Regions from separate parts of the Homo sapiens genome. Here all the other regions are reported to be linked to region 2. The links are microRNA targets in miRTarBase. Many come from high-throughput screens and were not tested one by one. Region 2 holds a microRNA gene; each other region holds the end of a gene's coding sequence.
What was found. Region 2 holds the annotated microRNA hsa-miR-2115-5p (AGCUUCCAUGACUCCUGAUGGA, at 3,413-3,434, opposite strand). A microRNA usually pairs through its seed, bases 2 to 8, with sites in the 3' UTR of a target mRNA and lowers its output. Matches are read on the target gene's strand: a 7mer-m8 pairs with bases 2 to 8, a 7mer-A1 pairs with bases 2 to 7 and ends in A, and an 8mer does both.

Region 1: miRTarBase lists ARRB2 as a target of hsa-miR-2115-5p. Seed matches in the 3' UTR shown: 7mer-m8 at 492-498.
Region 3: miRTarBase lists PSAT1 as a target of hsa-miR-2115-5p. Seed matches in the 3' UTR shown: 8mer at 774-781.
Region 4: the mRNA of MDC1 is a reported target of hsa-miR-2115-5p. Seed matches in the 3' UTR shown: 7mer-m8 at 4,181-4,187 and 8mer at 3,805-3,812.
Region 5: miRTarBase lists RGP1 as a target of hsa-miR-2115-5p. Seed matches in the 3' UTR shown: 7mer-A1 at 2,353-2,359.

Annotation. Positions count from the first base shown.
Region 1 is chr17:4,720,659-4,725,761 of GRCh38, forward strand. It overlaps ARRB2 (arrestin beta 2), which reads left to right. Exons shown (of 15, transcript NM_004313.4): 15 at 288-839. The coding sequence ends at 381. Among named protein-coding and RNA genes, the nearest start is that of MED11, 8.2 kb to the right of the region's middle. RefSeq lists a silencer at 5,063-5,103.
Region 2 is chr3:48,313,006-48,318,108 of GRCh38, forward strand. MIR2115 (microRNA 2115) reads right to left here and starts at 3,454; the gene lies at 3,355-3,454. The region is part of intron 6 of SPINK8 (serine peptidase inhibitor Kazal type 8 (putative)); the gene reads right to left.
Region 3 is chr9:78,328,519-78,333,621 of GRCh38, forward strand. It overlaps PSAT1 (phosphoserine aminotransferase 1), which reads left to right. Exons shown (of 9, transcript NM_058179.4): 9 at 463-1,575. The coding sequence ends at 568. Among named protein-coding and RNA genes, the nearest start is that of PSAT1, 34 kb to the left of the region's middle.
Region 4 is chr6:30,696,120-30,701,222 of GRCh38, forward strand. It overlaps MDC1 (mediator of DNA damage checkpoint 1), which reads right to left. Exons shown (of 15, transcript NM_014641.3): 15 at 3,688-4,513. The coding sequence ends at 4,346. It also overlaps the pseudogene RPL7P4. Among named protein-coding and RNA genes, the nearest start is that of MDC1-AS1, 4.4 kb to the right of the region's middle. RefSeq lists an enhancer at 4,401-4,902.
Region 5 is chr9:35,752,198-35,757,280 of GRCh38, forward strand. It overlaps RGP1 (RGP1 partner of RAB6A GEF complex), which reads left to right. Exons shown (of 9, transcript NM_001080496.3): 9 at 454-5,083. The coding sequence ends at 677. It overlaps MSMP (microseminoprotein, prostate associated), which reads right to left and starts at 2,079. Exons shown (of 3, transcript NM_001044264.3): 1 at 1,803-2,079; 2 at 1,463-1,571; 3 at 793-1,083. The coding sequence starts at 1,932. The coding sequence ends at 903. RefSeq lists an enhancer at 693-1,892 and a silencer at 4,800-5,083.

The sequences.
Region 1 (5,103 bases), not on the chromosome of region 2:
TACTTGACCCTCTTGGGACAAAGATTCCTATAACATTCAAATCTGCCCTCATACCTCTTCCTTGCTTTTGGTGGGGAGAAGCGGATTGTAGCATCAAATCAAGATGCCTTAGCCTTGTGAGGCTGCCTCTTGCTGCCTTTTCTTTGTCCCTTCCTGTAAATACCTCTGGTCCCACTGCTGTTCGAACGCCTCTGTCCCAGAGGCCTAGCTTCGGGGAGGGCAGGGAGTGGGAGGCTGGGACAAGAGTCAGAAGCCCTCACCTCACAACCCTCTTTCCCACCACCAAGCTATGCCACAGATGATGACATTGTGTTTGAGGACTTTGCCCGGCTTCGGCTGAAGGGGATGAAGGATGACGACTATGATGATCAACTCTGCTAGGAAGCGGGGTGGGAAGAAGGGAGGGGATGGGGTTGGGAGAGGTGAGGGCAGGATTAAGATCCCCACTGTCAATGGGGGATTGTCCCAGCCCCTCTTCCCTTCCCCTCACCTGGAAGCTTCTTCAACCAATCCCTTCACACTCTCTCCCCCATCCCCCCAAGATACACACTGGACCCTCTCTTGCTGAATGTGGGCATTAATTTTTTGACTGCAGCTCTGCTTCTCCAGCCCCGCCGTGGGTGGCAAGCTGTGTTCATACCTAAATTTTCTGGAAGGGGACAGTGAAAAGAGGAGTGACAGGAGGGAAAGGGGGAGACAAAACTCCTACTCTCAACCTCACACCAACACCTCCCATTATCACTCTCTCTGCCCCCATTCCTTCAAGAGGAGACCCTTTGGGGACAAGGCCGTTTCTTTGTTTCTGAGCATAAAGAAGAAAATAAATCTTTTACTAAGCATGAGTGTGTGTTTTCTCTGTAGTGTTTAGAGAGTGTATGGTGTGCTTATCCATGATTCTGTTAGCTTGTGGGGGAGGACCCAGTCTCTCTTCTGCACCCAAAAGCCACCTGACACGGAGGCTATCAGCAAATGTTTATTGGATGACTGTGCTGTGGCTGTGTTCCAGGGTAAACATCAAAACTTGACTTAGTCCAAACTCAAGGGTGAGGCTTGATAAGGCCACAAAGTGAACTTAGTCATTTCTAGAGGTCACAGTAACTAAACTAACTCGCCTGCACACAGATGCTCACGGGAGCTAGCCAGGGCAGGCCCTTCCCTGTTGCGGCCGACGCACATGACCACCTGTGACCTGTTGTGACCGAGTCGCGTTCATTTCCACTGCTCCTTATGGCTGCTCGAGCCATCTGCTCCTGTGGCTCAGCGGTGCCACAACCGCAGGCCTCACCAGACAAGCCACGTGACGTCTCTGGAGTCTGGTACCTACATTCTAACACAGAAGCTGAGGCTTGGGCAGCAAGAACGTCATGCTGCCGTGGGCCCCTGTCCTAGGGACCACATCTTAGTGCTGTTCATGGGATATTCATCAGGGACTCCCTGAGGCTTGACCGAAGCCCCAGGCTGGGCTGGAGGGAGGTAGCATCACTCCACGAACATTTCTCACCTCCATCATCTGCTTCCACTCCTGAAGCCCAATCTTTCTCCTAAAGCTCCTTCATGCATTCCACAAACAATCTGGATTTGAGTCCCTACAAAGTACCAGGCATAGTATAGCAGTACAACAACAACAACAACAACAAAAACACATTAATTCATTCCCTTTTTTTTTTTTTTCTTTTGAGACAGAGTCTTGCTCTGTCGTCCAGGCTGGAGTGCAATGGTGCCATCTCGGCTCACTGTAACCTCCGCCTCCCAGGTACAAGTGATTCTCCTGCCTCAGCCTCCGGAGTAGCTGGGATTACAGGCGCCCGCCACAACTCCCGGCTAATTTTTGTATTTTTAGTGGAGATGGGGTTTCGCCATGTTGGTCAGGCTGTTCTCAAACTCCTCACCTCAAGTGGTCCACCCGCCTCGGCCTCCCAAAGTGCTGGGATTACAGGTGTGAGCCACCGCGCCAGGCCTCCCTAGTTATTTAACTACAATATCTTTGCTTCAGAGGAGAAGTACTGGAGCCAGGAGAACGCGTGACAGGGAGTTCTGAGCTAGGTTGGGTTTGGGGAAGATTTCCCTGAGAAAGTGACCTTTAAGCAGAGAAGTGAAAGATGAGGGGAGTTCGGGGACCGTCCAGGGATGAGCATTCTGGGCAATGGCAGTGTCGTGTGAAGGCAGGAGGAAACAACACATCTGGGACCTAAAGAGGCCAGAGAGACTGGGACAGAGACAGCCAGAGGCAAAGTAGTTCCTTCTGGCTGCTGAGCCAGATGGGGACAGCTCGCACAGGCCTTTAGTCTATGTTATGACTCGTGACTTCTAGTTAAATCGCCATTTACCCACAAGCTTTAAGTACTGCCAAAAGGCCCGTGACCTTGCTTACCCCGCCACGGCGGCAGCCTCCCCTGCAGAACCTGGACTTTCTCATGCGGAAGAACGGAAGAACCATCCCGCCTAATACCATCTCCAGCATCCCTCCGACTCCCGTGCACCTGCTCCTTGACCTCTAAGCCCAGGTATCTCAATTTTTTTTTTTTTTTTTTTGAGATGGAGTCTTGCTTTCTCACCCAGGCTGGAATGCAATGGTGCTATCTTGGCTCACTGCAACCTCTGCCTCCCAGGTTCAAGCAATTCTTCTGCCTCAGCTTCCCGAGTAACTGGGACTACAGGCACACGCCACCACGCCTGGCTAATTTTTGTATTTTTAGTAAAGACAAGGTTTCGCCATACTGGCCAGGCTGGTCTCGAACTCCTGACCTCCTGATCCGCCCACCTTGGCCCCCCAAAGTGCTGGGATTACAGGCGTGAGCCACCGCGCCTGGCCGATCTCAAATTTTTTTCAGGAGAATCAGAACCCTCGGGGTGCCATGGTAAAAATCCAGAGTTGGGCTCCACCTTTCCCGATTCTGAGTCACAAGGTCCCAAGAAGAATCCAAAAATCCGGATTTTTAATTAGTACACACTTTGAGAAACTGCCCTTTTTATTTATTTAATTAACTTATTTATTATTATCTTTTTTTGAGATGGAGTCTCACTTTGTCACCCAGGCTGGAGTGGAATGGCGCAATCTCAGCTCACTGCAACCTCCGCCTCCCGGGTTCAAGCCGTTCTCCTGCCTCAGCCTCCCGAGTAGCTGGGATTACAGGCACGTGCCACCATGCCTGGCTAATTTTTGTATTTTTATAGAGCCAAGGTCTCGCCATTGCACTCCAGCCTGGGCGACAAGAGCAAAACTCTCTCTCAATAAATAAATAAATAGTCTAATTCAATGGCATTTAGTATACTCACAATGTTGTACAACAATCCCCTCTGTCTACTTCCAAACATTTGGCTTCCTGTATTTTCAATAACAGATAAATTTTTTTAAATTGTCTTTCTTAAGGCCGGGCGCAGTGGCTCACACCTGTGATTTGTAATCCCAGCACTTTGGGAAGCCGAGGCGGGTGGATCGCCTGAGGTCAGGAGTTCGAGAACAGCCTGGCCAACATAGTGACACCCCGTCTCTACTAAAAATACAAAAAATTAGCTGAGCATGGTGGCGGGCGCCAGTAATCCCAGCTACTCGGGAGGCTGAGGCAGGAGAATCACTTGAACCCTGGAGGTGGAGGTTGCAGTGAGCTGAGATTGTGCCACTGCACTCCAGCCTGGGCAACAAGAACAAAACTCCATCTCAGAAAAAAAAAAAAATTCTTTTTGCTTTTTAGGTTCATACACTAGGAAAATTTTTTATATTTATTTTCATGTAGTCAGTTATAATAGCCACACAAAAAAAAAAAAAAAAAAAAAAAAAACAGCTTATGGCCAGGCGCGGTGGCTCATGCCTGTAATCCCAGCACTTTGGGAGGCCGAGGCAGGCGGATCACAAAGTCAGGAGATCGAGACCATCCTGCTAACACGGTGAAACCCCGTCTCTACTAAAAATACAAAAAATTAGCCAGGCGGGGTGGCGGGTGCCTGTAGTCCCAGCTACTCGGGAGGCTGAGCAAGAGAATGGTGTGAACCCGGGAGGTGGAGCTTGCAGTGAGCCGAGATGGTGCCACTGCACTCCAGGCTGGGTGACAGAGCGAGACTCCGTCTCAAAAACAAACAAACAAACAAAAAAACCAGCTGATTGGGTGTTTTGTCACAAAGCTTTTGGCCCTTCTGTTTTCTCACTACTTGACACTTCCTTTTCTTTCCAGCCTATACTTCAAGGTCACCATATCAACCCCTATCTCATCAGCACACTCCACCCTCCATTCACAATCCTGTTCTCAATCCACAGCCTGGATCCATCCAACTATCTCCCTTCTCTGCTCTGAACACAGGGGTTGGTGCTCATACAACCACTTGCTTGTTCATTCAACACATTTTGTTTTTGAGACAGAGTTCTCGCTGTGTCACCCACGCTACAATGCAGTGGCCCAATCTCGACTCACCACAACCTCCGCCTCCCGGGTTCAAGCGATTCTCCTGCCTCAGCCTCCTGAGTAGCTGGGATTACAGGTGCCCGCCACCCCACCTGGCTAATTTTTGTATTTTTTAGTAAAGATGGGGTTTCACCACGTTGGCCAGGCTGGTCTCGAACTCCTGGCCTCATGTGATCCACCTGCCTCAGCCTCCCAAAGTGCTGGGATTACAGGCATCAGCCACCGCGCCTGGCCAACAAACTTTTTTGAACTCATTCTAGGTACCAGACACTAGGTATGAATCTGGGGCTGCTAAAAATATATGGTCTCTAACCCAAGGTGGGCCCCCAACACCCGATAAGCTTTTGTCTCTCTCCATGTCCCTGGTTACCTCCCTCTCCTGCTCCCATCCTATGCACTAATTCTTTTTTTTTTTTTTTTAAGGTGGAGTTTCACTCTTGTTGTCCAGGCTGGAGTACAATGGCACGACCTTGGCTCACTGCAATCTCTGCCTCCCCGGTTCAAGCGATTCTCCCACCTCGGCCTCCCAAGTAGCTGGGATTACAGGCGCCCGCCACCATGCCTGGCTAATTTTTGTATTTTTAGTAGAGACGAGGTTTCACCACGTTGGCCAGGCTGGTCTCAAACTCCTGACCTCAGGTGATCTGCCCGCCTCAGCCTCCCAAAGTGGTAGGATTACAGGCGTGAGCCACCACGCCCAGCTACC
Region 2 (5,103 bases):
AAAAGATCAATGGGCTAAAACTACTAAACTCTTAGAAGAAAAATTAGAGGTAAATCTTTATGCCTTTGGATTTTACAGTGGTTTTTTGGGTGTAATAGCAAACGTAAGAACAACAAAAGAAAAAATAGATAAATTGATGTCATCAAAATTAAAAACTTTGTGCATCAAAGGACATTATCATGAAAGTAAAAGGCAACCTATAGAATCGGGGGAGAAATATTTGAAAATCATAGTATTTAGTATTCAAAATATATAAAGAATTCTTACAACTAAAACATAAAGACAACACAATTTTTAAAAATGGGCAAAGGACTTGAGTAGATATTTCTCCAAAAAAGTATATGGATAGCCAAAAAGTACATAAGAAGATGTCCAACCTCATTAGTCATTAGAGAAATGTAAATGAAAACTTGATGAGATACCATTTTCACACCCACAAGGATGGATATAATAATATTTTTAAAAAGTACTAGCAAGGATGTGAAGAAATTGGAACTCTCATATTTCTGGAAGAATGTAAAATGGTTCAGCCCCTATAGAAAAGTTTGATGGTTCCTCAAAAAGTTAAACACAGAATTACCATATAACTCAGCAAATTCCACCCCTAGGTATATAACCAGAAGGCTGAAAACAGGTACTCAAATAAATACTTGTACACAAATGTCTATAAGAGCACTCTTCACAATAGTTAGACATGGAAACAACCCAAATTTCCTTCAATGAATAAATAAAAAAATTGTGGTATATACACATAATGGAAAACTATTCAGTAATACAAAAAGAAATGAAGATATATGCCACACTGTGGATGAACCTCAAAATGATTATGTAAGTGAAAGAAGCCAGACACAAAAGATCATAGGTTGTATAATTCCAGTTATGTGAAATATACAGAATAGTAAATCTGTAAAAACAGAAAGTCTATTGCTAGTTGCCAGGAACTGTGGGGAGGAGGGAATGGGAAGTTAACTGCTTAATGGACATGAGGTTTTATTCTGGAGTGACAAAAATGTTTTGAAAGTAATAAAGGTGGCAGTTTTATAACATTGTAAATGTACTAAATGCTACCAATTTGTTCACTTTAAAATGGTTCATTTTATGTCATATGAATTTTACCTCAATCTTTAAAAATATGCATTTGCACCCATTTATAGTTATAAGAACTTTGATAAGTTGCTCCCCTCAGGTCTCAGTGTCTTCATTCAAAAGTGAGCCCTTTTGCTTGGACAGTGAAAATGGAGAAGTAAGAATCTTTAAAATTTCCTCCACGAAAGCAACAAGAACACTGGCAAAAATGGTCAGAATCAAGTTTTCCAGAATTCTGGGAATTAAAAAAAAAAAAATCAAACCATGCAGCAATCCAAGGAACATCTATTGAAGAAAAATTGCTGCTTCTCAGTAAGAATAGTGAGTTTCATGGCATTTTATCTTGCTCTGGACCCATCTGCAGCATTCCCAGTTCCATGGTAGTAATGAAAAACAACCACCCACAATCATAGTGAAAACCAGCAGCCTGGCAGCATCTGGAGGGAGAAGACTGGTGTTGGAATGCCTTCAATGCACCATTACCAGAGAATTGTCATTATTTGACCTGTCTGGGTGGTTCTCTGAAAGACCCATTTGCAAAGCTTTTATTTGACCATACTCAAACCTCTCTTGGTGCAAACAGCCTTTTCCCTGGGAAAATTTGTTGAAAACAATCAGAGGCAACTGTTTAACATCATGGCTGCTGCACAGTGTGTAACAGTTGTGAAAAACAATAGGTTAACCAAGAGCTTAAAAGTAAGTTAGGCAATGAGATGTCCATAGGAGGTTTTGAAAAGCTCTAACATGTTACTGGAAATACAGAAGGCCTTGCAGCCAGTGTAAGGCTTTCTGCATGCTCAGAAAAGACCAGAGAAAGTCCCAACATCTCATCTCTAACTAATCTTGTGGGTCTGTGCAAACATCCAGTGACCACTAAAGTGTAGCTTTAAACTGCCTGGTTGAGTAGAGACATGCCTCAGTGCACACACAAAGTTTTTGTTGTCAAAGACTGGGAGATTTATTGGTTCCAGCCATTTAAGGAAATTTTTTTCCAATCATTAGCTGATAATAAGATAATGAGTAGGACCAGATCAATGGCCATACATGACAAAAAATGCATACTTTACAGGATTATTTCAGAAGTCACTAAACTAACACATGGCAACAACAACAAATAACAGCAACAAACCTTGGATAGAGGTGAGAATCTGATTTCCAGAGTTGCCACATTATATTATTCAAAATATTCAATTTTCAACAAAATAGTCATGGCACGTACAAAGGAAAAGAAAGTATGGCTCGCATATAGGATAAAAGTCAGTCAATGGAATCTGTCACTGAGGAAGCCCAGATGTTGGACTTACAAGACATTTTAAATCAGCTATTTTACTTATGTTTAAAGAACTGGGCCGGGTGTGGTGGCTCACTCCTGTAATCCTAACACTTTGGGAGGCTGAGGCAGGTGGATCACTTGTGGTCAGGAGTTCAAGACCAGCCTGACCAACATGGTGAAATCCTGTCTTTACTAAAACTACAAAAATTAGTGGGGCTTGATGGCACAAGCCTGTAATCCCAGCTACTTGGGAGGCTGAGATAGGATAGTTGCTTGAATCCAGGAGGCAGAGGTTGCAGTGAGCCGAGATCATGCCACTGCACTCCAGCCTGGGTAACAGAGTAAGACTCCATCTCAAAAAAAAAAAAAAAAAAAAAAAAGAACTGAAGGAAACTGTATGTAAAGAACAAAGAACTAAAGGCAAGTATGAGAATGATGTCTCACCAAATAGCGAATATCAATAAAGAGACAGAAAAAATTTTCCAAGAACCTGAATAAAAATTCTAAAGTTGAAAATTACAATGACCTAGAATGAAAAATTCCCTGGAGGGGCTCATATAAGATTTGAGCAGACAGAAGAAAGAGTCAAATGTGCTTGAAGATAGACCAATGAATAGTAACCAGTTTGAGGAAAAGAAAGAAAAATAATTATGAAGAAAAAAGAACAAAATGGGTTAAAATGCCTCACATAACCAATAAGATAAAACTCAATTCAAATTGGGAAAAAAATGAATATAGCCACAGAGAAGTGTGGGACACTGTCAAGGGCATCAACATATACATAAAGGGAATCCCTCAAGGAGAGGAGAATACTTGGAAAAATAATGGCTGAAATTCCCCAAGTTTGATGAAAAACTTCATCCAGTAAGTTCAAAAAACTTACAATAGGATGCATTCTAATAGAGCCACACATAGACAAATCATTATAAAATTGCCAAAAGACAAAGGCAAAGAGAGAATCCAAAAAGCAGAAAGGGAGAAGTGAATATCACATGTAAATGATCCTCATACTGCTTCTAGCCTCCATGAATTCTGATGAATTCATGTGATTCCTCCATCAGGAGTCATGGAAGCTGGAAGCAGTGGGATGACAGTCAAAATGCTGAAAGAAAATGAGAGGTGGCCAGGCACGGTGGCTCACACCTATAATCCCAGCACTTTGGGAGGTGGAGGAGGGTGGACTGCTTGAGCTCAGGAGTTCAAGACCAGCCTGGGCAACATGGTGAAAACCTGTCTCTACCAAAAATACAAAAACAAATTTAGCTGAACATGGTGGGGTGTGCCTGTAGTCCTAGCTACTCAGAAGGCTGAGGTGGGAGGATCACTTGAGCCCAGGAGGTCGAGGCTGCAGTGAGCCACAATCATGCCACTGCACTCCAACCTGGGTGACAGAGTGAGACCTGGTCTCATAAATAAATGAATAAATAAAAGAAAAATAAAAAAAGAAAATGACAGTCAACCAAGAATTCTATGCCCACCAAACTATTCTTCAGAAAGAAAGGTGAAATTAAGATATGTCTAGATAAAGAAGAATTGAGGCAATTTGTTGCTAGCAGACCTACAAAATACTAAATAGTCCTTCAGGCTAAAATGAAAGGATCATAAGCAGAAACTTGAATTCATGTGAAGAAATAAAGAGCCAGTTAAAGTAACTATATAGGAAAATAATAGACAGTATAAACATATTTTTGTTTGTAAATCTTTCTCTCCTAAGAGGCAACTGCATAAAACAATTATAAATCTGTGTGAATGGGTGTACAATGAATAAAGCTGTAATTTGTATAACAAAAACAGTTCAAAGAAGGATGGGGAGAATGGAGCTATTTAAGAACAGCATTTTTTGGCTGGGTGTAGTGGCTCATGCCTGTAATCCCAGCACTTTGGGAGGCCGAGGCAGGCTGATCACCTGAGGTTAGGAGTTTGAGACCAGCCTGGCCAACATGGTGAAACCCCATCTCTACAAAAATACAAAAATTAGCTAGGTGTGTTGGTGTGCGCCTGTAATCCCAGCTACTCGGGAAGCTGAGGCAGGAGAATCACTTGAACCCAGGAGGCAGAGGTTGCAGTGAGCCGAGACCACAGTATTGCACTCCAGCATGCGCAACAAAAGTGAAACTACATCTCAAAAAATAAAAAAAAAGGAGCATTTATTTATTTATTTATTTATTTGAGACGGAGTCTCACTTTGTCACCCAGGCTGGAGTGCAGTGGCGCGATCTTGGCTCACTGCAAGCTCCACCTCTCAGGTTCATGCCATTCTCCTGCCTGAGCCTCCTGAGTAGCTGGGACTACAGGCACCCGCCACCACGTCTGGCTAATTTTTTGTATTTTTAGTAGAGATGGGGTTTCACCATGTTAGCCAGGATGGTCTCTATCTCCTGACCTCCTGATCTGCCCGTCTCAAAAGAACTTTGCTCTGTTGCCCAGGCTAGAGTGCAGTGGCACGATCATGGCTCACTGCAGCCTTGAACTCCTGGGCTCAAGCAATCATCCTGACTTCCAAGTAGCTAGGACTACAGGCAGGTGCCACCATGCCTGGCTAATTTTTTAATTTTTTTTTGTAGAGTCAGGGTCTCGCTATGTTGCTCATGTCTCAAATCCCTAGGCTCAAGCAATCCTTCTGCCTCAGCTTCCCAAAGTGTTGGGATTACAGGCTTGAGCCACCCCTCCAGGCAAAAATATTTTTTAAAATTTTTGTAATTAAGTTGGTATTAATCCAAATTAGATTGGTATAAATTAGAATT
Region 3 (5,103 bases), not on the chromosome of region 2:
ATTATTATTCCAACTGAACATCAAATTAGTAGCTAGTCTTGCATGCTCTATGAAAAATAAATGTCCTCACATGAGAATAGCAGCAGGGAATGTCCTCACATGAGAATAGCCCAGCCCCGATCTTGCTGGCACTGTCACGACAGGCTCATGAATGTTGAACAGAATCGCTATCTTCTTCCAACTTACCTTTTCTTCCCCACATCTTGCTTGCTTTCTTTGCCAAGAGTGAATAGTTCGAATGACTCTAAATGTGAGCATGGTGAACCTTCACAGCTTAAGGGAGAATTTTCTGATGACTGAGACGTGTGAAGCTCTGTGCCAGGTGTCGGGAGTTTTTAGGTAGGAGACCGGAAATGATGGTCTCAGGTGCTGCAACTCTCAGGAGCCAGTGGCTAGAAAAAGGTGTTTTGATGCGAAATTAGACGTTTTTGTTCTCAATGCCTGGATCTTTGGTCATTCTAGGTCTGTGGGAGGCATCCGGGCCTCTCTGTATAATGCTGTCACAATTGAAGACGTTCAGAAGCTGGCCGCCTTCATGAAAAAATTTTTGGAGATGCATCAGCTATGAACACATCCTAACCAGGATATACTCTGTTCTTGAACAACATACAAAGTTTAAAGTAACTTGGGGATGGCTACAAAAAGTTAACACAGTATTTTTCTCAAATGAACATGTTTATTGCAGATTCTTCTTTTTTGAAAGAACAACAGCAAAACATCCACAACTCTGTAAAGCTGGTGGGACCTAATGTCACCTTAATTCTGACTTGAACTGGAAGCATTTTAAGAAATCTTGTTGCTTTTCTAACAAATTCCCGCGTATTTTGCCTTTGCTGCTACTTTTTCTAGTTAGATTTCAAACTTGCCTGTGGACTTAATAATGCAAGTTGCGATTAATTATTTCTGGAGTCATGGGAACACACAGCACAGAGGGTAGGGGGGCCCTCTAGGTGCTGAATCTACACATCTGTGGGGTCTCCTGGGTTCAGCGGCTGTTGATTCAAGGTCAACATTGACCATTGGAGGAGTGGTTTAAGAGTGCCAGGCGAAGGGCAAACTGTAGATCGATCTTTATGCTGTTATTACAGGAGAAGTGACATACTTTATATATGTTTATATTAGCAAGGTCTGTTTTTAATACCATATACTTTATATTTCTATACATTTATATTTCTAATAATACAGTTATCACTGATATATGTAGACACTTTTAGAATTTATTAAATCCTTGACCTTGTGCATTATAGCATTCCATTAGCAAGAGTTGTACCCCCTCCCCAGTCTTCGCCTTCCTCTTTTTAAGCTGTTTTATGAAAAAGACCTAGAAGTTCTTGATTCATTTTTACCATTCTTTCCATAGGTAGAAGAGAAAGTTGATTGGTTGGTTGTTTTTCAATTATGCCATTAAACTAAACATTTCTGTTAAATTACCCTATCCTTTGTTCTCTACTGTTTTCTTTGTAATGTATGACTACGAGAGTGATACTTTGCTGAAAAGTCTTTCCCCTATTGTTTATCTATTGTCAGTATTTTATGTTGAATATGTAAAGAACATTAAAGTCCTAAAACATCTAAGCCCTTGTCAATGAATTTCTCTACCTGCTTTTTAGACAAATTGTTCTTTATGATGGGAAAGCTTGAGGTCTAAAAATAGCACCTGCTAAGGGTAATTTAGTTCAACCAAAGATCTAAGACTTAATTCTTGTGCATCCATTTAAAAAAATTCAACACGGTGTGGGAGCTTTCCATTTGCTTTTGGAATGGGCATTATCAGCAAACCACCTTCCATTGCAGCTGAAGGTGTAAAGTTCTTTTTTTTTAGATGGAGGCTCGCTTTGTCGCCCAGGCTGGAGAGTGTGGTGGCGCAATCTCGACTCACTGAAACCTCCCCTCCCAGGTTCAAGCAATTCTCCTGCCTCAGCCTCCCGTGTAGCTGGGACTACAGGTGCCAGCCACCATGCATGGCTAATTTTTGTATTTTTAGTAGAGACGGGGTTTCACCATGTTGGTCAGGCTGGTCTCGAACTCCCGACCTTAGGTGATCCGCCCACCTCAGCCTCCCAAAGTGCTGGGATTACAGGCGTGAGCCACCGTGCCCAGCTCTGAAGGTGTAAAGTTCTATGAGCTTTGTCCCATTTGCCCCAGAAACATGCCACTAGGACTGTTTTGAGCTATCTTCCTGGTTTATTTGATTGCATAATGAGGACTCCACCAGTGTCTTGTCCCATCTCTGCACTGGTTAGTTGGCTCCCCTGTTCAGGTCACAGGCTCCAAGGCTTGGTTCTGTCATCTGTAACAGGAGGGTTGAAATAACTCCCCCACCACTTACCTTAAGGATGTTTAAAAGTTTAAAACAAGGGCTCGATGCAGGATGTGAATAATAACCACAATGAAGTTTTAAGTAGCAAAAGCCAGGCAGTCCATGGATTCCAACTAAGTGTTCACACATAAAAGTCATGCTCAGAGTCAGCCTCCCCTCCTTCCTCACCCTTTCATATGTGGTTGCACATCCCTGTCATCTGTATCAGACCTGTGCTTCTCAAATATCTGCTAATTTTCATTCCATTGCCATGTCAGCTCTGCTATGTCAGCCCTCAGTGGATTATTCAGCAGTCTCTTCTCTGCCCCCATATTCCCCTCCCACCACAGCCAGTTGAACTATGACTTCCCCTTGTGCTCTTTGTTGATGCATACAAAGTCCAGTACTCCCAGCCTGGCAGTCAGGACTTTGTAGCATGGGACATGGCCTCTTGCACCTCTCCTGCATTTGTGATTCTTGGAAAGTGGCATGCATTTGCCCACACTATGACATAAGCCTGGAGTTTCTGTGCCCACTCAGGAAGACCAGATGACACCCGCCAACCTCTTCCTAAACTCATTTGTGTCCTTTCCATTGGGACAATGTTCTTTTCCTTTGTTTTCACCAGGGGGATCCTTTTCTCCCATTATACCATCTCTGTTTTGTTCTTTACTATGCCAAGGTGGCTGCATATGTGCCTTCCCCATACAGCAGCATGGAAAGAACGATGGTTCTCTACCTCAAGCACCTAGTGTCCTGCCTTGCCCTTCGAGGTGCCCAGTGAAGTCTGTTCTTTTTAGACACAGGGTCTCGCTTTGTCACCCAGACTGGAGTACAGTGGCGTGATACTAGCTCACTGCAGCTTCGACCTCCTAGGCTGAAGTTATCCTCCTGCCTCAGCCTCCCCAGTAGCTAGGACTACAGGTGTATGTTACTGTGCCTGGCTAACTTTTTAAATTTTTTTGTAGAGACAGGGTCTCGCTATGTTGCCCAGACTAGTCTTGAATTCCTGGCTGCAAGTGATCCTTTTGTCTTGGCCTCCCAAAGTGCTGGGATTGCAGGCAAGAGCCACTGCGTCTGGCTGAATGAAAAATCTTAATGTAGGTCACGTTGGTCTTTCTGAGTACCATAAACTGAGCTTGGAGTAAAGGCAGAGAGGTATGATCTGTCACATAACATGGACCTTTTGTTTTTTTTGATGGAGTCTGTCTCTGTTGTGCAGGCTAGAGTACAGTGGTGTGATCTTGGCTCACTGCAACCTCTGCCTCCTAGGCTCAAGTGATTCTCCTGCCTCAGCCTCCCAAGTAGCTAGGATTACAGGCACTTGCCACCACGCCTGGCTAACTTTTATATTTCTAGTAGAGACAGGGTTTTACCATGTTGGCCAGGCTGGTCTCGAACTCCTGACCTCAAGTGATCCACCTGCCTTGTGCTCCCAAAGTGCTGTGATTACAGGCATGAGCCACCACCACATACGTGGACTTTTAATATATATATTTTTTCAAGAGCTTAGTATCCAATTTCGTTTTCTACTAAAATGGTCAAATATGATTCTGTGGTTGAATGAGGAAATTTAGTGTCTTGTGAGTTCCCCCAGAACCATCTTTATAAATCTGAAAGCTTTTGGAAAATGGTTAACTACCACATACGGACAAGGGGTAATCACTGGTGTCTGGCCAAACAGGGAGGTTCTGGAATAGATATTGCTGGAAAATATTCATCAGAGCAAAAAACTTGACCTTTGTATGTCTCGAGGGAATGAACTGATGCCAACCTGCTGATCACGCAGAGAGGGGTGAAAAGGGGAGATAAAGATACAGGCTTCTGGGTCAGCAAGCTGCAGGAGTCAGAACTGGTTGGTCTTTCCTTGAAGATTAAAATGGAAAGCAAGGTAGATTGACAGGTGTCTTTGCAGCCTTGCAGAGGCTGGGAGAGGGGCTGCCTCATATTCCTTTGGAGCCTCTAAATTGTACTTCTTCCCCAAATGGAACTTGGAACTTTTTTTTTTCTTTTAAAATTGGTTAAGGCCGGGTGCAGTGGCCCATGCCTGTAATCCCAGCACTTTGGGAGGCTGAGGTGGGCGGATCACCTGAGGTCAGGAGTTCGAGACCAGCCTGACCAACATGGTGAAACCCCGTCTCTACTAAAAATACAAAATCAGTTGGGTGTGGTGGCACATGCCTATAATCCCAGCTACTCAGGAGGCTGAGACAGGAGAATCACTTGAACTTGGGAGGCAGAGGTTGCAGTGAGTCAAGATTGTGCCATTACACTCTAGCCTGAGCAACAAGAGCAAAACTCTGTCTCAAAAAAAATAAATTAATTAAATAAAATACAATTATTTACAACATGTAATCATTATAATGCCATACAACCAAGAAAAACCAAATTTTTTTCTTGTGTTCCTTGTGTTTACCTCTATGCCCTGCTTTGTCTCCAATACTACAATTCTGTTCTTTGCATGAGAAATAAAATCATGTTCTGTCCCTAAGGCCTAAATCCCCTGCTAGAGCCCATTGATTGAAATGCCTAATGCTGTCTCATCATAACTTACCTGAAGCTGGCAGGTTTGGCATGCACTTAAGTGAATTATGTGAGGTAACAAAGAAGTAGTCCCTCCTCCCTCCTCTTAGAGCTGAAGGGGCTCTACAAGCTGAAGACACATAAAAATGGACAAAACATTAGATGTTGTCCAATTCTACCAAAGGCATTATCAGGTCTGGCCTTGCCCTCCATGATTAATGTTTGTTGTATCACGTTCTTTGGAAGGAAAATAAAACGAGGAAGAATTTTTTCACATTTGA
Region 4 (5,103 bases), not on the chromosome of region 2:
TTGCTCTTGTTGCAACGGCATGATCTTGGCTCACCACAATCTCCACCTCCCAGGTTCAAGTGATTCTCCTGCCTCAGCCTCCGGAGTAGCTGGGATTACCGGCATGCACCACCACGCCCAGCTAATTTTGTATTTTTTAGTAGAGACGGGTTTCTCCATGTTGGTCAGGCTGGTATCGAACTCCTGACCTCAGGTGATCCAACCACCTTCGGCCTCCCAAAATGCTGGGATTACAGGCATGAGCCACCACACCCGGCTAATTTTTGTATTTTTTAGTAGAGATGGGGTTTTGCCATGTTGGCCAGGCTCGTCTTGAACTCCTGACCTCAGGTGATCTACCCACCTTGCCTCCCAAAGTGCTAGGATTATAGGCGTGAGCCACCGCACCTAGCCCATTTTTGTATTTTTTGTAGTGACAGGGTTTTGCCATGTTGCCCAGACTGGTTGCCCGTGAAGTCCTGGGCTCATGCAATCCTCCCACTTTGGCCTCCCAAACTGCTGGGATTATAGGCATAAGCCACCCCACCCAGCCTGGACACCTGATTTAAATTCTTTTGGGTGTACACCTAGGAGCAGAATTGCTGGACTGTTCGGTAATTCCGTATTTAACTTTCTTTTTTTTCCTCCAATTTGAGAGCAGGTACTGCTTAAGTGCTTAGATTAGAAAAACAATCACAGTAGACACCTTAGCTCATTCTTCTAATAAGTCTGTTGATCCGGTTCTCCCTGTTGCCAGCATGTCCACTTTCTACAAAATGGGTGGTCTTTTTCTTTACTCTACCTTGTGGAGAGGATAATTTGAAGGGCTACAGGAAGTTATTTGCTTCTTTGAAGCATTTTCCAACAGTATAGATCTCAAGAATCAGATCCTCCATGCAGGTGATGCCATATTTACCAAGAGATAAAGCAATCAAAGTGTCATCTGTCAAAGCAATTTGCTTCTTATTGATTTTTGCCATAACCATGCTGGTAGATTAGTTCATTTACTGACTTCAGCTTTGGGTACCCCCATGCCATATATGGTTCTACAATCCTCAGCATGTTCATTGAAGCCTTGTTGAGCTTCACAAAGGTTCCACTGAAGATTTAACAAAGGCGAAGAAGCTGCAACACCTTTCGGACCTTTGGGTTCACACCACTGATACCTCTGATCCTGATGACAAACGGCAATTTGGGTTTTGCAGGTACATAGAAGTTGCCAGCTTTTCTGGCCATCCTAGCCATTCGAATTTCAGTTCTGTACATCTGCCTATATTCCTTGTGATAGTGCTTCACTTTTTCATAGATAAGCTTCCTCCTTGCCTTTTGAATCATCTTTTGGGCAAATTTCTTTCTCGGGCCTTTGATCTTCAGCTCTGGGAAATTCCTTCGCTTTTTAAGGGTTTCTGGCATAGCAAGAACCTCCTTCTTTTTCTCTCTCTTTTTTTTTTTAAGACGGGGTCTTGCTCTGTCTCCCATGCTGGAGTGCAATGGTGCGATCTCGACTCAATGCAACCTCCCCCTCCTGCATTCAAGCAATTCTCCTGCCTCAGCCTCCTGAGTAGCTGGGATCACAGGGGCTGGCCACCATGCCCGGCTAATTTTGTTTTGAATTTTTAGTAGAGACGGGGTTTTGTCATGTTGGCCAGCCTGGTCTTGAACTCCTGACCTCAGGTGACCTGCCCACCTCGGCCTCCCAAAGTGTTGGGATTACAGGTGTGAGCCACTGCACCCCGGCCCTCTCCTTCTTATCTACAACACTCTACATGAGGGTTCCAGCCAGAAAAGAGGCTACTTTTTTTTTTTTGTTTTTTTTTTGAGAGGGAGTCTCGCTCTGTCGCCAGGCTGGAGTACAGTGGAGCAGTCTTGGCTCACTGCAACCTCCACCTCCCGGGTTCAAGCGATTCTCCTGCCTCAGCCTCCCGAGTAGCTAGGACTACAGGCGCCTGCCACCACGCCTAGCTAATTTTTTGTATTTTTAGTAGAGACGGGGTTTCTCCATGTTAGCCAGGATGGTCTCAATCTCCTGATCTTGTGATCTGCCCACCTTGGCCTCCCAAAGTGCTAGGATTACAGGGGTGAGCCACCACGCCTGGCCTTTTTTTTTTTAGATGGAGTCTTGTTCTGTTGCCCAGGCTGGAGTGCAGTGGCACGATCTCAGCTCACTGCAACCTCCACTTCCCGGGTTCCAGCAATTCTTCTGCCTCAGCCTCCCAAGTAGCTGGGATTGCAGGCACATGCCACCACGCCCGGCTAATTTTTGTATTTTAAGTAGAGACGGGATTTCACCATGTTGGCCAGGCTGGTCTCTAACTCCTGACCTCAGGTGATCCACCTGTCTTGACTTCCCAAAGTGCTGGGATTACAGGCATGAGCTGCCGTGACTGGCCTTTTATTTTTTTGAGACAAGGTCTCACTCTGTTGCCCAGGCTGAAGTGCAGTGGCTCGTGTCCACCCACTGCAGCCTTGACCTCCTGGGCTCAAACGATTTTCCTCTTAGCCTCCCAAGTAGCTGGGACCATAGGTGTGTGCCACCATGCCCAGTGAATTTTTGTATTTTTGGTAGAGACGAGGTTTTGTCATGTTGCCCGGCTGGCCGTGAACTTCTGAGCTCAAGTGATCTGCCAGCCTTGGCCTCCAAAGTGCTGGGATTACATGTGTGAGCCACTGTGCCCATCCATATGTTTAACTTTTTGAGGAACCATCAAACTGTTTACCACAGAGGCTGAACCATTTAACATTCCTACCAGCAATGTATAAGGATTCTAATTTCTCCACATCCTTGTAATCAACCAACTTTTAAAATTTAAATCTGGCTGGGCACGGTGGCTCAAGCCTGTAATCCCAGCACTTTTGGAGGCTGAGGTGGGTGGCTCACTTGAGGTCACGAGTTAGAGACCAGCTTGGGCAACATGACAAAACCTCGTCTCTACCAAAAATACAAAATTCATCGGGCATGGTTGCACACACCTATGGTCCCAGCTACTTGGGAGGCTGAGAGGAAAATCGTTTGAGCCCAGGAGGTCAAGGCTGCAGTAAGCCGACATCGAGCCACTGCACTTCAGCCTGGGCAACAGAGTGACACCTTGACTCAAAAAGATAAAAGGCCAGTCATGGCGGCTCATGCCTGTTATCCCAGCACTTTGGGAAGTCAAGACAGGTGGATCACCTGAGGTCAGGAGTTCGAGACCAGCATGGCCAACATGGTGAAACCCCGTCTCTACTACAAATACAAAAATTAGCCGGGTGTGGTGGCATGTGCCTGTAATCCCAGCTACTCGGGAGGCTGAGGTGGGTGGATCACTTGAGGTCAGAAGTTAGAGACCAGCCTGGGCAACATGACAAAACCTCATCTCTACCAAAAATACAAAAATTTAGTAGAGCCCCGTCTCTACTAAACAATAAAAAAAAGAAAATTAGCCAGGCATGGTGGTGTGTGCCTGCAGTCCTAGCTACTCAGGAGGCTGAGGTGGGACTATTGCTTGAACTGGGAGGTGGAGGTTGCAGTGAGCCAAGATGGTGCCACTGCACTCCAGCCTAGGTGACAGAGATGAGACCCTGTCTCAAGAAAAAAAAAAAAATCTTAAGAAATGTCATACAAATTGTCCTAAATAGAAGATAATGATGAATTAAATACAAGTCTATGACTTTTTTTTTTTTAAGTTTGTGTCTTGAGACCTAGACATTTTAAAAAACTACACTACACCATAAGGCACAGAGTGAATATTTATTTATCACAGAGGTCAAGCCGAAGCTCTAATTTTATAAATCCTGGAAAAGCTGGCCAGAAAAGTACAGAGACTTGCCCAAAGTCAAAGCTAAAGATGCTTCCAGAGGCCAGGAGAGAAGAAAATGTTTTAGTAGCACTCCATAACTGGACCCTCAAATCTACTCACTCCAAGCATCCCTTCAAGTTCCTGACCCCAAAGTAAGAATCTCAGTAAGAAAAAAATAGAGATGGTTTCCAAATAGGAGGTAGGACACCATGAGTGGCATCGAGCAATAACTGCAACAGTCTGGCTAAAGATAGCTGCCACTTATGACATCTGAGCATGAAACTAGCTAATTTTAAAATGGCCATTTAATACATGCATGTAAGAAATCTTGTATCCCCTAAATCTATACAAATAAAAAACTATAAATACAAATAAAATAAAATGGCCATTAAAAAAACAAACAAACAAACAAAAAACAACCTGTGGCTTCCAAATCCCTTATCTTTTCATTTATTCATAAAGATTTCTGGTCCCACCCATGTTCCAGGACAAGTTGTATCAATATACCCCAATCCTTTCTAACGCCCTGAGTTCTTTCTTCCACATATCTTCTAATTCGTGGTCTGGGAGGGAAAAGGGTAGTGGAGTTCTCAGGTGGATGACATCTCCAAAGGGGAGAGGACAAAGGCCTCTGGCTTGGCTTCCTGCTTCAGCACTCCAGTCAGCAGGAACTCAGGCGAGAGGAGGGGCAGCCCAACCCGTAGTGGAATGGAGCAATGAGGGAAGTCCTGAGGGCATGTGATCACAACTCTCTGAGGCTGGGGAAGACAGAGCAAAGGCAAAATCAGGTGAAAAAGAATCCTAGAAATGGGTTCAGGACCCACTAACCAGTCTTACCATCACTAAAATAATACCTCCTAATATGAAGCCAAGTGAAGCACACCGCATACTGTCTATGAAATACTCTTGCTAGGCCGGGCGCAGTGGCTCATGCCTGTAATTACACAGCACTTTGGGAGGCTGAGGCGGGTGGATCACGAGGTCAGGAGATCAAGACCACGGTGAAACCCTGTCTCTACTAAAAATACAAAAAAAAAAAAAAAAAAAAATTAGCCGGGCGCGCTGACGGGTGCCTGTCGTCCCAGCTACTCGGGAGGCTGGGGCAGGAGAATGGCGTGAAAACCCAGGAGGCGGAGCTTGCAGTGAGCCGAGATCGCGCCACTGCACTCCAGCCTGGGCTACAGAGCAAGACTCCATCTCAAAAGAAAAAAAAAAAGAAAAAAAAAAAAGAAATACTCTTGCTAGAGGCCAGGCACAGTGGCTCACGCCTATAATCCCAGCACTTTGGGAGGCCGAGGTGGGTGGATCACGAGGTCAAGAGATCGAGACCATCCTGGCCAACATGGTG
Region 5 (5,083 bases), not on the chromosome of region 2:
GCTAAGGGAGGGTGTAATGGATCCTGATTCCTTATACACACTCCCAGACATACCCACGTCTAGCCTCTGACCCGGAACAGTTTCTCAGACCTTCAACCTCTTCCTGTTTCTTAGATGCACTGACCCCTAAACTCCTAACAGCTTGATAGAACTCCTTCCCCACACCTACCTACTAGGACCCTGTGATACACTGATTTTTGATTACTTCATGCTACCTAGACTTGACTGCCTCACTCTTAGGTTATTAGGTACTTAATACTGCTATCTTCAGCTCACATCTGTGGTAGTACCCATTGCTTCAGAAAAACCCTTAATCACAGCTCCCTGCCCTGTGACTTTTCCCTGTCTTCCTGAACACAGATTGTTTTCTTCTCATTCACTAACTATATCCTGTCATTGGCTTTTACTCCTGCTAGCTTCTGATGCTTCTACCTTAATCTTTTTCTTCCATAGTGTCCTTGAAGTGGAGATTGCATTTTGAATTTGTAACGTCCCGAGAACCAGGATTGGTACTCCTACCCCCTGTGGAACAGCCCGAACCTACCACCTGGACAGGACCTGAGCAAGTACCTGTAGACACCTTCAGCTGGGACCTGCCCATCAAGGTGCTGCCTACTAGCCCCACCCTGGCCTCATATGCTGCCCCAGGCCCCAGCACCAGCACCATAACCATCTGAAACTGGCCCACCCTGGTGCTAGTTCCTTCCGGATACTGAGAACTCAGCACCTGGACTCTAATGGGACCCACTTTTTCCACCTGGGGTCCAATGTCGTGGACAGTGAGAGTCGGGCTTTCAGCTATAGCATTAATTTATTTGTTCAGAATACATTGGCAGCTGCTAGTGGTTTCCCTGGAAGTGGCAGCAGCAGTGAGCAGTCAGCAGATGGATGATCAGTTGAGTTTAGCTGGAGTGGGGAGCAGGAGCCCCAGGAACAGGGGTGTTGGCTGAGCCCCATTCTGGGTCAGGCCCTCCCCCTTTGCAGGGCAGCCGAGGGTCAGATTTTTGCACCAAGGAGAACTGGCAGGTTCCTGCCTCCTGACGTACCTCACACCCAGCCGGGAAGTCGATGGGATGCTGGGACCTGGGGAACCAAGGATAGGGGAAGGAGTCAGCACAGTGAAAGGCTGCCTTTATCCCTGCCCACATGTTCCCTCTCTCACAGTTTTCCCCCCACAGAGCCCCTTTCAGTGGCCCCTTGGTCCTCCTAACTAAGCTGTCACCTACCATATGTGGGCCTTTTTGTTTTATAACAGGAGTATTTTCTCTCCAGGTCCACCCCAACCTCCCCTGATTTATAGCCTGAAGCCTTATCTTTCACACTAGTGTTGGTCCCTTCAGGTTTGGCCCATCTTGTATTGCTCTTCTGTTCATTCTTACATCACAGCAATCTAGTCACTCCCTGGTCATCCCTCAGTCACTCATATCAGAGTCATTCTCTCTGGCCATCTTTGGTCACTCACGTGTCACAGCAGCCCACGCCAACAGGATGCAGACAGGTGCAATGGAAACAGTCCTTGCGGAGCCAAGACTCACCCAGGGTAAAATATTTCCCCTCATAGTGACAGGGGGCTAGGGAAGAACGGGAAATGTTAGTAGGTGTAGGAGTGCTGATGAGAGGCAGAGGCTCTTCTGGTCTGGGGTGGAGACAGTAAGTACGCACTATCCCCGTATTTAGTTTGTCTTTCCTGTTTCACAGCTGGAGGAAGCCTGGGTATTTTGACACGGGATCATCTGTAAGGCCCCATCCTCCCTGTGCCCTCTCTGCTGCTCCTCCATTCCTAACGCTTCACCCCACTTTACCTTGAGCTTGGAAGTAGCACTTGCTGTAGACTCCTGGGTGCTGGAGGAGTAGAGACATCACCAAGCAGATGATCCCCCAGCCTCCTAGGATCCCCTTGGCCTGTCCAGCCCAGAGCATCCTTAGGGCCATTGCTGCTGCACAGCCCTCTCAGACCCTTCTTGGCCTCTGCTCAGCTACTCTGGTCTTGACTCCTTGACTTTGCTTTGCGTTGCTCCTTGAGTCTTAGTTTCTGTCTTTCTCCCCTGGGCTCCTGTCTCACACTATCTCCCTGCCCTCTGCTCTCACAGGCTGGGGATGTTTATAAAGTGAGGACCCTGGCCCCCTGCTGAGTAGAGCTGGAAAAGTTGTAACTCTGTTTCCTGAGGTGAGGGCATGAAAACAAGAGGTCTAGCTTTAACAAGCTGTGAGAGCTGATTCATGCCCCGGCACAGCTAGAGGGAGGGAGGTGGCCATGGAGGGGGCACTGGACTGGGCACTTCCCCAGCAAGGAGGCAGGAGGGGCGAGGGCCCCCAGGTGGTCCCCAGATCTCTTCCCTGACCTGGAGAGAAGGAAGCATTCCACCTTCCCCCTTTCTCCCCCACTGCCACCACCAGGGGTGTGTATGCTGGGATCCCTGCCTGGACCGGAGGGAGGCATTTCCTGGGGATGGTTAATCCTGTGCCCCAGCCAAACCCAGGAGCTGCAATAGGGTGCGACGGCCAGAAGCTCCAGGAGAGTGAGCAGGCACCTGGAGTGGAGACTGTGTTTCCCTCAGATCCTAGGGCAGGGTTTCCCTAATGTATCCAAGAAATAGGGCTGCCCCTCAGAGATGGTGGGGAGGGTCTCTTTTCCTCAGGCATTCCAGAGGTGAACTGTCCATTGCTTATCACCTTCAAACATACAGCAGATGTGGGATCACCCCACATCTGGGGATGGTTCTTTCCCCTTTCAAAGAGGAGCATCTCTAAGTGCCCTGATGGGATGAATCACTCCAGGTTCACAGAGGTGTCCTCTCTTTCCTCCCATATATAATGGAGTGAGGTTTTTAGGAATTTATCATTTGGCATCCTCTGAGTTTCCCACAGGTTCTGGAGGAGCCCAGGATGGATTATTGAGAGCATGGGCTGTAGAGACAGTCTTCTTGGATTCAGATCCTGACTCCACTTAGCTATGTAACCTGGTCAGATTACTTCACCTCTCTGAGCCTGTTTCCTCATCTATAAATTGGGGATAGTAATGCCAACTCATTGGGCTGTTATGAGGATTACTGAGATAATGCGTGCAGTGCTCTTATCACCATCTCTGGTGCGTAAGCGTCAGGAAATAGCAGTTGCTGTGATTGGGGCTAAAGCTCTGAGGCAAAATGGGCGACATTATTTTCTTTGAATGACATTAAGCAGTTTGTGCATAGCTGAGGGCTTCTATTGGGGATGGCTGTCTCCTGGCATAGACCTCTGCACCTTTCACACTCATACTCCTTGTCAGCAGTCCCCAACCTTTTTGGTACCAGGGACCGGTTTTGTGGAAAACAATTTTTCCACCAGTGGATGGAGGGGGATAGCAGCGGGGAGATGATTTTGGGATGAAACTGTTTCATCTCAGATCATCAGGCATTAGATTCTCATAAGGAGTGTGCAATCTAGATCCCTTGCATGCGGAGTTCACAGTGGGGTTTGCACTCCTGTGAGAATCTAATGCCTCTGCTGATCTGCCAGGAGGAGGAGCTCAGGCGGTAATGCTCACTCGCCTGCCGCCCACCTCCTGCTTTGTGCTCCCGCTTCCTAACAGGCCACAGACTGGTACTGGCCTGTGGCCTGGGGGATGGAGACCCCTAATCCATGTCACCTTTCCCACCTCTTTCAAAAACAGGTACCTCCAGGAACATTTTGGTTTTGGCCCTTGTATTGACTTCTGAATGTCTAGTTTGAGAAACTGTTCCCAATAAGCCTTCTTCCCCCAGATCTGCACCCTCGCCTCTACCCTAGGACAAGATGTCCTTTTCTCATCATCCTGCCAGGCTAACTTTAAGTCTCCTGCTTTTTCTCACTTGGATTTGGATCCATTTCTTCCTATTTCCGCTCATGTGAACTCTCCAGTTCTCCTTTCTCACCACTCTCCTGCTAGCCATCTCTTTGGCACTAAAGGCCCTGGTCAAATTGGATTTCTTTCATTTTTCCACACTTCAAAGACCCATGTTCTAGGTATTCTCCATAGGGATAGTCTCTTTGGCATTTATTTGGTTTTTCTACGTTTTCAGTCCCATTTACTCCAAGACTCACTCCCTGCCACCTAGTGCATCAGATACAGCTACTTCTGGCTGACTTTTCAAGGGGGACCACCCTACCTGTCATCTCTTCACTGTTCAGAAATGACTGTGTCAGTGCACCTCAAACTCCCTTGCTGTCCTTTTCCAAGGAGACAGCTAAGGTGGATGGAGATGCAGAATGGACCTCACGTTCGCCCTAGTCAGGACTGATACCCTTTCCGTTTCAGAGGATTGCCAAGAAAAAACTCACAGTTGAGGCAGGGTGCTCTGAGGTCGGCTGCGGTGTGGGAGGCACGGCCTGGGCCTGCTCTCTGGGCTGGAGCAGGTGGATTCGAAGGCCTGTCTAGCACGAGGGCCCAAAGGTCTTGTCAGTGGCCAGTAGCTCTGCCGCCTTTCCCAGAGAGGGGGTCCAGGGGACATCCTGGAAGGCTGGGCCCTGGGCCACCTTCTGCTCTTGCAAGCTAGAGCCAGCCCAATAGGGGGCGGATGTGAGTGGGGAGCTGGGGCGCATGAAGGTGGGGGTGATGCCGAAGGGGAAGGGATCGCCAGTGGGGATTGGTGCGTGTGCGGAAACGGGGACAGAAGTGAAGGTTCATCGCCTATAACGAAGATGAGGTAGGCATATAGGGGCTTCTGGAAAGCTAGAGGCTGGGCTGAGCCAGGAGTCCTCTCCCAGAAGTTGGGGGGCGGTGCAGAGGTGTGGGTCGAGCCCGCATGCGTGCCTGCTGGGGAGGGGGTGAGTGGTGAGGACCAGGCCCGCTGGGTCCTGGGGGCGCGGTGGCTGGCGCGCAGGTCCCGGAGGGGGCGGCTGGCGCGCACTACACGCTTGGGAACAAGGAAAACATCCGCCGGAGGCCCGGCCGGGCGGCGCTCCAGCCTCGGGGCAGGTGCGCGGAGAGGAAGTGAGAGCATTCCGGCCCCCCCACCCCAACCCCGGCCGCTGGCCCTCTGGTGAGTCACAGCCGACCCCCGCCGCCGGAGGGAGAGGGGAGCTGCGGGCCAGAGCCCCGGAGGGTCTGGAGGAGCCAGGAGGG